2 linked regions of the Homo sapiens genome follow. The protein of the gene in region 1 purifies or fractionates together with the protein of each later gene. This does not show direct contact. Each region holds a gene or a part of one and is shown in the gene's direction. Other genes may lie near its edges.

Evidence for each region.
Region 2: the proteins of SDHAF3 (region 1) and BOLA3 purify together in Homo sapiens (affinity purification with mass spectrometry; one large-scale study listed by BioGRID and IntAct). This does not show direct contact.

Annotation. Positions count from the first base shown.
Region 1 is NC_000007.14:97,119,640-97,124,619, forward strand, and holds part of SDHAF3 (succinate dehydrogenase assembly factor 3, mitochondrial precursor), read left to right. Parts: intron 1-4,980. UniProt on the Homo sapiens protein: Plays an essential role in the assembly of succinate dehydrogenase (SDH), an enzyme complex (also referred to as respiratory complex II) that is a component of both the tricarboxylic acid (TCA) cycle and the mitochondrial electron transport chain, and which couples the oxidation of succinate to fumarate with the reduction of ubiquinone (coenzyme Q) to ubiquinol.
Region 2 is NC_000002.12:74,140,364-74,145,343, reverse strand, and holds part of BOLA3 (bolA-like protein 3), read left to right. Parts: intron 1-40; coding exon 41-155; intron 156-2,983; coding exon 2,984-3,072; intron 3,073-4,980. UniProt on the Homo sapiens protein: Acts as a mitochondrial iron-sulfur (Fe-S) cluster assembly factor that facilitates (Fe-S) cluster insertion into a subset of mitochondrial proteins. Probably acts together with NFU1.

The DNA of each region.
Region 1 (4,980 bases):
CTTTCACTAATGTCCTTATTCTGTTCCAGGATCCAATGGGGATTCTACAATGCATTTAGTTATTCTTTTTCCTTAATCTCCATTCTGTGACAGTTGCTCCGTCTTCCTATCTTTCATTACCTTGATACTTTTTTGAAAAGTACTAGTCTGTTACTTTGTGGAATGTATCTCAATTTGAGTTTGTCTGATGTTTTCTCATGGTTAAATTGATGTTATGCATTTCATAACATCTCAGTAAGAATACCACATGGGCAAAGTGTTCGCCTCAACACTTAATGTCAGAGGGCACATGATACTAACATGACTTCTTACTGGTGATGATAACTGTGATCACTTGGTTAAAGTAATAATCCACGTGGTGTCTCTACTGTAAACTTACTATTTTCTCTTTTGAAATTAATACATATTTGGGGGTAGGTACTCTCAGGCTTTCAGATGATTACTAGTCTTAGCATTCATTGATGGATTTTGCCATTGTGTTCCAATGGTGGCTCTTTTGTTTCCCTCATTCCTTCTGAATTTATTAGTTGACACGCGTCTGTAGAGAACAGTTTTCCTGTCTTCCCCGACCATTGTTGATCTACTGGAATTAATGAATTGGCAGCTGGGTAAAGATAAATTTAAACGTAGTAATCTCTTTGTATAACATAATTATCACAGTTACAAGGCAGCTTAATCTAAGCCTGGGAGTTAGACGTGGTAGGTTGGATCCTACCAGGAAAGATACTTGAAGAACTGGTCTTTTTGAAAGAGTAGGGCTAGAGAAGATGCTAATGATTGGAGGGGAGAAAAACCTGGCTAGAGAAGTTTTATCACCAGAGAGTAATATACTTAAGACTTCCAAGTCTTTTTCCCCCCCACCTGTTCTTCAAAATATCTAATTTATGATTATGTTATACTAGATACTGCTAGACATGACATGGATTTTTATGCCTTTATTTTTCAGTTAGTGCTCATTACAAACTTGGCACCTGTTGTTTGAATATAACTTAATGGTTACGTTTACATCAAACTAAGAGTAACTGTTGTGGACTTCTAACTTAATATGTAGAGTCTGGTCTACACGATCCCAGTCCCTCACACACATCTAAACTTAATTATGGACTTGAATGGATTCTGAATTTGTTTTACATCAGGGGCAACGTTGGGTATAGTTGCCACTGGAGAAAAGAAAGGGATCAAGAACACTAGAGGCCCCATATTTGGAAGAGAGTTCTCTAATTCTCTTCATTTGTGATCCTGGAAAACTGGCAATATAATAGTAGAGAGAATTCAGCTGGGGGAAGTTTTTGTTCAGGGACCAAGTGGGGCAACGTGGAAGGAAAGTATTTTAAGTATAGAAATGTAAAAGCATGTTTACAGAGTAAATAGTGAATTTATGTAATTTCTCACCATAAGAGAAAAAATTTAAGTTCAGGAAGAGTTTTTGGGAATCTATGAAGGGAGAATGTACGATAACTGGTTTGTAAAATGTGCATTGTAATCTCAACTCTTAGGAGGTAACTATTAGAAGTGAAATTGAGACTCCATAGATCGGGGGTCTTACTACGGCATTTTAAAAGTTCTGACTGTGCTCATTTTTGAGGAATAGTTGTTTAAGGCTTTCTATTTTTCTCTCTGTGCCTACCACTTATTTTCTAGGAAATCAGAATAAGCATTGAAGATTAAATAGATAAAACATGTTGGTGAGAGAATATGAGACAAAGAGCACAGAAGAGTGTGCTCTCAGGAGCTACCTGAAGAGACTTCATTTATTTTTCTTTTTCTGTCCCATGTATTTTTCTGAGTTGTCTCTTGCCTAGTTCCTGTTGTTTTTCTTAAGTACCTGTTCTGTGTCTGTTGTGGAATATTTTTTAACTGTTTTGTTTCTAGAAAAAGGCAGAAACATTTTTCAGATAGTTTTGATCACTTACTATTTCCAGACAATGTGCTAGGCATTTAAGACACAAAAATGAATAATAAATGTATTTTACTTTCACAGTGTTCAAAGTTTAGTAGAAAAGGATAGACAATTGTAATATAGTATGAAAGAGTGTCTATTAAATGCTGTGGGATCAAGGAGTAATGGAGGAAGTTGAAAGCTACACAAGATGGTTAAGTCTTGAGTAGGTCAAATTTACCATATCAAAAAGAGAACCTTCTAGAAAGAGGGAATAACATATGCAGAGGCATCGAGGTAAGAAACAGTATGAGGTTTTTTGGTTTTTTTTTTTTGTTTTTTTTTTTTTTGTTTTTGAGATGGAGTCTTCGCTCTATCGCCCAGGCTGGAGTGCAGTGGCGTGATCTCAGCTTACTGCAAACTCCGCCTCCCAGGTTCATGCCATTCTCCTGCCTCAGCCTCCTGAGTAGCTGGGACTACAGGCGCCCACCACTGCGCCCAGCTAATTTTTTGTATTTTTAGTAGAGATGGGGTTTCACTGTGTTAGCCAGGATGGTATTGATCTCCCGACCTTATGATCCGCCCACCTGGGCCTCCCAAATGCTGGGATTACAGGCGTGAGCCACCGCGCCCGGCCGAAACAGTATGACTTTTTTCCAGGAACTGCAGTGTTGTGTTTGGAATTTAGTGTTTTACGCAGAAGATGAGGAAGAAATAAAGCTAAAGAGGTGGCAGGAGACAGGATATTCTGCTAAGGGTTTTAAGTTTTTATTTTGAATCATTGAAGGCTTTGTAAATGGTGGAAATGACTTAAATTACATTCTAGAAAGATCATGTTAGCAGCAATATAGAGGAATAATTGAAGTAAAAGCCTGATTGAAAGTAGGGAGAACTGTTAGTAGATGGATGTAGTAATCCCAGTCTCAAATAGGTATATACCTAAACCAAGACAGAGGCCTTGAAAATGGAGGATATAGATTTATGAGGTTTTTTTTTTTTTTCTTTTAAAGTAGAGTGGAACTTGACTTGTTGACTAATACAGTATTAGTGAAGGAGAAGAAAACAGAATGGATAACTCTCAGGTTTGGAGCATGATACCAGTAACCAGAATAGTCATATAGGAGGAACAGATTGGGAATGAGTTCAGTTTGGTGTGCTTTGTGCTAAAAATTCTCATGGACAGTTAAGTGAAGATGTTCAGAGAGATATGTGTTGGTCTGATACTCAGGAGACAGATTGTGGCTGGAGACAGAGATTTGGAAGTTATTACCTGTAGTTGGTAGACTAAAGATGTGGGTGGAAGTGCCCCTTTTGGGTATAAGTTGGTCAAAGATAGAACATTAACATTTAGGAGTTAAGAGAATGAAAGTAGTTGTATAGTGCTGGAATTTTTCTTTTCTTTTTTTTTTTTCCATCTGTATGTAGTTGTTCCTAGCTACTGCTGCAATGGAAGTACTTTTTTACTTTTTAAAATTTTATTTTAAGTTCTGGGATACATGTGCTGAACATGCAGGTTTGTTACATAGGTATACATGTACCATGGTGGTTTGCTATACCTATCAACCCATCATGTAGGTTTTAAGCCCTGCATGCATTTGGTATTTGTCCTAATGCTCTACCTCCTCTTTCCCCCCACCCCCTGAAAGGCCCAGGTATGTGATGTTCCCCTCCCTGTGTCCATGTGTTCTCATTGTTCAATTCCCACTTAGGAGTGAGAACATGAGGTTTTTGGTTTTCTGTTCCTGTATTAGTTTGCTGAGGATGATGGTTTCCAGCTTCATCCATGTCCCAGCAAAGGACATAAACTCATTCTTTTTTATGGCTGCATAGTATTCCATGATGTATATGTTCCACATTTTCGGTATCCAGCCTATCGTTGATGGATATTTGGGTTGGTTCCAAGTCTTTGCTATTGTAAATAGTGCTGCAGTAAACATACATGTGCATGTGTGTTTATAGTAGAATGATTTATAATCCTTTGGGTATATACCCAGTAGTGGGATTGCTGGGTCAAATGGTATTTCTGGTTCCAGATCCTTGAGGAATTGCCACACTGTCTTCCACAATGGTTGAAGTAATTTACACTCCCACCAACAGTGTAAAAGTGTTCCTATTTCTCCACATCCTCTCCAGCATCTGTAGTTTCCTGATGTTTTAATGATTGCCATTCTAACTGGCGTGAGATGGTATCTCATTGTGGTTTTGATTTACATTTCTCTAATGACCAGTGATGATGAGCTTTTCTTATGTTTGTTTACTGCATAAATGTCTTTTTTTTTTTTTTGAGAAGGGTGTGTTCATATCCTTCGCCCACTTTTGGATGGGTTTTTTTTTTTTCTTGTAAATTTGTTTAAGTTCCTTGTAGATTCTGGATAGTAGCCCTTTGTCAGATGGATAGATTGCAAAAATTTTCTCCCGTTCTGTAGGTTGCCTGTTCACTCTGATGGTAGTTTCTTTTGCTGAGCAGAAGCTCTTTAATTTAATTAGATCTCATTTGTCAATTTTGGCTTTCGTTGCCATTGCTGTTGGTGTTTTAGTCATGAAGTCTTTGCCCATGCCTATGTCCTGAATGGTATTGTCTAGGTTTTCTTCTAGGGTTTTTATGGTTTTAGGTTTTACGATTAAGTCTTTAATCCATCTTGAGTTGGTTGTAAAGTGTAAGGAAGGGGTCCAGTTTCTGTTTTTTGCATATGGCTAGCCAGTTTTCCCAGCACCATTTATTAAATAGGGAATCCTTTCCCCATTGCTTGTTTTTGTCAGGTTTGTCAAAGATGAGATGGTTGCAGATGTGTGGTGTTATTTCTGAGGCCTCTGTTTTGTTCTATTCATCTATATGTCTGTTTTGGTGCCAGTATCATGCTCTTGTGGTAACTGTAACCTTGTAGTAATAGTTTGAAGTCAGGTAGCGTGATGCCTTGAGCCTTGTTCTTTTTGCTTAGGATTGTCTTGGCTATGCGGGCTCCTTTTTGGTTCCACATGAAATTTAAAGTAATTTTTTTTCTAGTTCTGTGAAGAAAGTCAATGGTAGCTTGATAGGAATAGCATTGAATGTATAAATTACTTTGAGCAGTATGGCCATTTTAGCAATATTAATTCTTCCC
Region 2 (4,980 bases), on another chromosome or scaffold:
ATCTTCCTCTGCCCTGACCTTCCTCTCTGTTCTGTGGCAGCTTCCACTTCACCATCGGATGTTTGCCACTCAGACTGAGGGGGAGCTCAGAGTGACCCAAATTCTCAAAGAAAAGTTTCCACGAGCTACAGCTATAAAAGTCACTGACATTTCAGGTAAGGTTTCTCTCACTCTTCCTACGGCGCTTGGATAAGATTTTGCCCTTTGGAAGGACAGAGGGTCAGGGGCTTGGAGGAGGGGGCTTGCTGCTGGTGAGTGGCTTCTCAAGATGTGTTGCTGCTGGACAGGTGGAGCTCGGCTGCCCCCACCTCATGGGATGGCAGTCAGGATTCAGAAATATCAGAGGGAAACTGAGGACAAGGCGCAGCTGGGAGGACTCAAGGTTGCCAGCCTGGCTCAGCTCAGACAAGGTCCCTCTCAGTCACCCTAGAGCTGAGGTCCACAGTCTGTCATTTGACTTTGAATAGGTTTTGCTCTAATTTTCCCCCATTCTTCTGACACCCTAGGATATCAGAGCTGGAGTGGACCCCAGAAAGATTTTCTTCAGCTGCTTTACTTTCCCTAAGAGGAAATGAGCCCAGAGAGGCCAAAGGAATTGCCTAGCTCCTCATAGGGAAGAGACAGTGGAACTGGAACCAGAACCGGGACTCAGGGGAGACTCTGTCCTAAGCCCAGTTACCAGCCCCAGCCAAGCGCTGTCCTTCTCAGGTGGCCACTGGCACCTAGAAGTTCAGGCTGGCAGTGTGTTAGGAGCAGGCTGGAGAAGCAACTTCTGCATCCACAGGATGGGGAAGATAGGCCCTTTATCCACACACACACACACACGTACACACAGAACGGCCCGTGGCGTGGGCCGCTGGATAGGCATCAGTCTGAATCTCTCCATACCCAGAGGCAGCCTTTGCCACTCAGCATTGCCATGAGGGCTCACTGACTTTACTGAGAACATAACATTTCCAAGGATTGAGGAGAAAGTTTAGAAAGTAGATTTTATTCTGGAAACCACAGGAAATAAATCAATCTAAAGATCTGCTGGGGTTTTGGAGCAGTGGCTCATGCCTGTAATCCCAGCACTTTGAGAGGCTGAGGCAGGTGGATCACGAGGTCAGGAGTTCAAGACCAGCCTGGCCAACATGGTGAAACCCCCCCGTCTCTACTAAAAATACAAAAATTAACTGGGCGTGGTGGCACACGCCTGTAGTCCCAGCTACTCAAGAGTCTGAGGCAGGAGACTTGCTTGAACCCGGGAGGCGGAGGCTGCAGTGAGCCAAGATCATGCCACTGCACTCCAGCCTGGGTGACAGAGCGAGACTGTGTCTCAAAAAAAAAAAAAAAAAATCTGCTGGGGCCAGGCGCGGTGGCTCATGTCTGTAATCCCAGCACTTTGGGAGGCTGAGGCAGGTGGATCACCTGAGGTCAGGAGTTCGAGACCAGCCTGGCCAACATGGTGAAACCCCATCTCAACCAGAAATACAAAAAAAAAAAAAAAATTAGCCAGGCATGGTAGCAGGCACCTGTAATCCCAGCTACTCAGGAGGCTGAGGCAGGAGAATCGCTTGAACCTGGGAGGCAGAGGTTGCAGTGAGCTGAGATTGCACCACTGCACTCCAGCCTGGGCGACAAGAGCGAAACTCTGTCTCAAAAAGAAAAAAAAAATCTGCTGGAATGGTACATCAGGTGAGGGCTCTGCAGGAGTCTTGGGGCAATGCTGAGGCCTTGATGTTACCAGGTCCTGAACTTGCCCCAGGCCCAGGGCAGAGTTAGAGCTTGACTCAGCTGTGGCTCTGCGCAGTCCTGGACAGAGTGCAGAAGGGGAGTTGAGGCTGAGAACCTGGGTTTAACCAAAACTTGGACTCCTAGAGCACATTATAAGAAAAACAGAACAGGCCAGGCGCGGTGGCTCACGCCTGTAATCCCAGCACTTTGGGAGGCCGAGGCGGGTGGATCACGAGGTCAGGAGATCGAGACCATCCTGGCTAACACGGTGAAACCCCGTCTCTACTAAAAATACAAAAAAAAAATTAGCTGGGCATGATGGTGTGTGCCTATAGTCCCAGCTACTCAGGAGGCTGAGGCAGGAGAATGGTGTGAACCTGGGAGGCGGAGCTTGCAGTGAGCCCAGATCGTGCCACTGCACTCCAGCCTGGGCGACAGAGCGAGACTCCATCTCAAAAAAAAAAAGAAGCAGAGCAAAGCCTGTTGAGTACGTTGCACCTCTCACACAATGGCCTGGCTCTGTAAATCATGCAGGGGACATATTCTTGCCCATGTTATTTCATGCTAGAGCTGTGTGTTTATCATCAGTCATCAGCACCAGCTCTCCAGCCAGGTGGAGGAAAGCTCAGGCAGGGGGTGGATGGCCCACCAAGCTCTGCCTCGAGGGCTTCACCAAAAAGTTCTCCCCCCAAAAGCCAGGATGAAATCCTGGATGCTGTGCTGTGGACCCAGCAGTGCCAGAGACAGCCCCGAGCAGCTCCATGCATAGCATGTTTGCTGTGTCCCTGGCTCTCATGCTCCCCTGGTTCTTTCCTTTCTTTGGACAGTATTACACAGTTTTCAAACCAAATTGTAGTGTATTTTTGCACTTCAAAAACACTGATTGTTGGTCCTTTGGAAGCTGGAACGCTGAAATTCCGTCCTTCTCATCCTCTTCCGTGGCGTTTATTGGCCTAGTGAAAGGAAACACTCTACACTCCCTAGGTTGTCCATGCTTTGTGCCTTATCTTTCCTGCCCACAAGTGGTAACCCTGGGTGGTGCAGCTGCCTCGCAAAAGGAAGAGCACATTTTGGATTGTGGCAGCCTGTCAGGAGGAGCATGTGGTCAGATTGGAAGCCATGATCTTTTCCTAATGGTCTTAGCAACTTTCCTTTGTGCTGAATGATAATATTCAGACCTTTGGATTGTACAGTACTTCAAGGATATATGGGACCATGGCTGCCATGACTTAATAATTGAAATGCTTTTGAATCATGTTTATTTTAGGAGGTTGTGGGGCGATGTATGAAATTAAAATTGAATCAGAAGAATTTAAGGAGAAGAGAACTGTCCAGCAGCACCAGATGGTTAATCAGGTCAGTAGAGGCAACAGTGCCCCTTGCCACTGGCCTTCAGCCTCCAAAGGGGCCTGCCAAGCAGGGATGGTGGTTTTTGCCGTCAGTTGCAGGAGAGAATAATGCAGTACTGCAATCACGAAACAGGACTCAAGACCTGAGAAAAATCGAATCTGGGAGTATCTGCATTGTGGCAAATAGGAATTTTATTCAAAATTGAAGACAGGCCTCCCAATAGTGATTTTGTATGTCCTCGTATAATGCTACCTATGTTTACTGTTATTGTCACATATTGATGAGTATATCTAAACACAGACACTGCTAAAAGATACATGTTTTTGTAGATCTGAAGAGGGGTTTTTTGGCCTCTCTTTGGGACTGCTTTACAGATGAGTCAGTTGATGCATGGCATGAGTGAGAATGGCTGCAGCTGCCCCAGACCCAATGACAGAACATTTGGGTTCTGGAACATCACGTTCAACCAGCCTAAGGCTCAGTTTAAATATTATCCATATTTATTTTAATTTGGAATTTATACCAACTTTGACCCTTGTACCTGTACCTATGAATTTGCCCCCTCACTGGGTGTGTTTGGCATCGTTCTGGAAGGTCTTGCCATTGTGAACTAGTGTTATTTTTGTAAAGCACAGCACTGGTAATGAGCGTCTCTTCGGTGGCCTCTCATGCATTGAGTTCAGGTGTCCTAGACTGCTGTTCACGCATTTCCCCCCACCCTTCTCTGCGTGCACCCTCCCAGCCGGCCTCTGCCCGCTGGTCTCTCTCTTTCTCTATCTGGGCCTTTGCCCAGATTGGACCTTCTGCCTGGGTTGCCCTTCCTCCCGTCCTCCACTCAGCTCAAATGCTGCCTCCCCTCCCTCCCCAGCAGGGAATGAATGCCGTTCCCCCACCCTCCCCGGCCCCCTTTTTTGGCTGTCGGTGTTTTCCGTCTTGTGTCCTGAAAACGGACATCTCTGCTGTCTGACCCTGCAACCTGTCAGCCCTTTGTGGACCAGTGCCCTTTGGGATCCATCTTTGTGTTTCTCATGGAACGTAGCCCTTTGCAGTGGATGTGACCCCTACAGCCCTAAGGCATGCTGGTGGTCTGCTGGGTGCTCCATCACTGAGCCCTCCCGGAAACTCTTGCAGTCCCATGTGATCTCTGGGGTCAGAATCAAGGCAGAAGACAAGACAGGGAAGACCTGGCTGGCCAGATGATCCCCAACCCGTGGCACTTTGGGTTTTATTCTCAGATCTGTACAAGCCACCTGGTGTGACTGGACCCATAGGTGCTGGTAATTTGAGTGTGTCCCTTGGCCTGAAACCACAGTTACAAGTGGTTAAGGAAGCAGTTTCTGGAATTGGACTTCCCACTTTCAAATCTGGGCTTTGCTACTTTCTAGCCATGTGACCTTGAGCAAGTTTTTCAACCTCACCCTTTGCCTCAGTTTCCTAATTGAGAGTAACAGTACTTGCTTCAAAGTGTTGCTGTGAGGATTCGTGATAAAGTACACGTTGACCACTGACAACACTGCCCGACACATAGTAAGCCTTCCATAAATGTGACCGCCATCACCATCATTGTCATCTCCAACACTGGAAGGAACCTGCACCAGTCTGGGGTGGGGAAGGGCTGTGATTCCCACAGTTTGGGGGAGTGTCACCTCACGGTCTTGGGATTAAGGTGTCTTCTGGCCCCCTATAGCAACATGTGCCTCTCCTCACACTTCCTGAGTAGACAGCCCAGTCACTTGTCTTTCATTCCCCCTCGAAAGCAGGCTTACTGCAGGACGGGGCTGTGTCCCCCACACCTAACAAAGGACCTGGCACATGGAAGGAGCCCAGTCAGTATTTCTTGAGAGTTTGCAGAGAGTGAGGAGAGTTGGCTTGTGTTTTCTTATTGGCTTACCCATGGAAATTATGTTTTAGTAT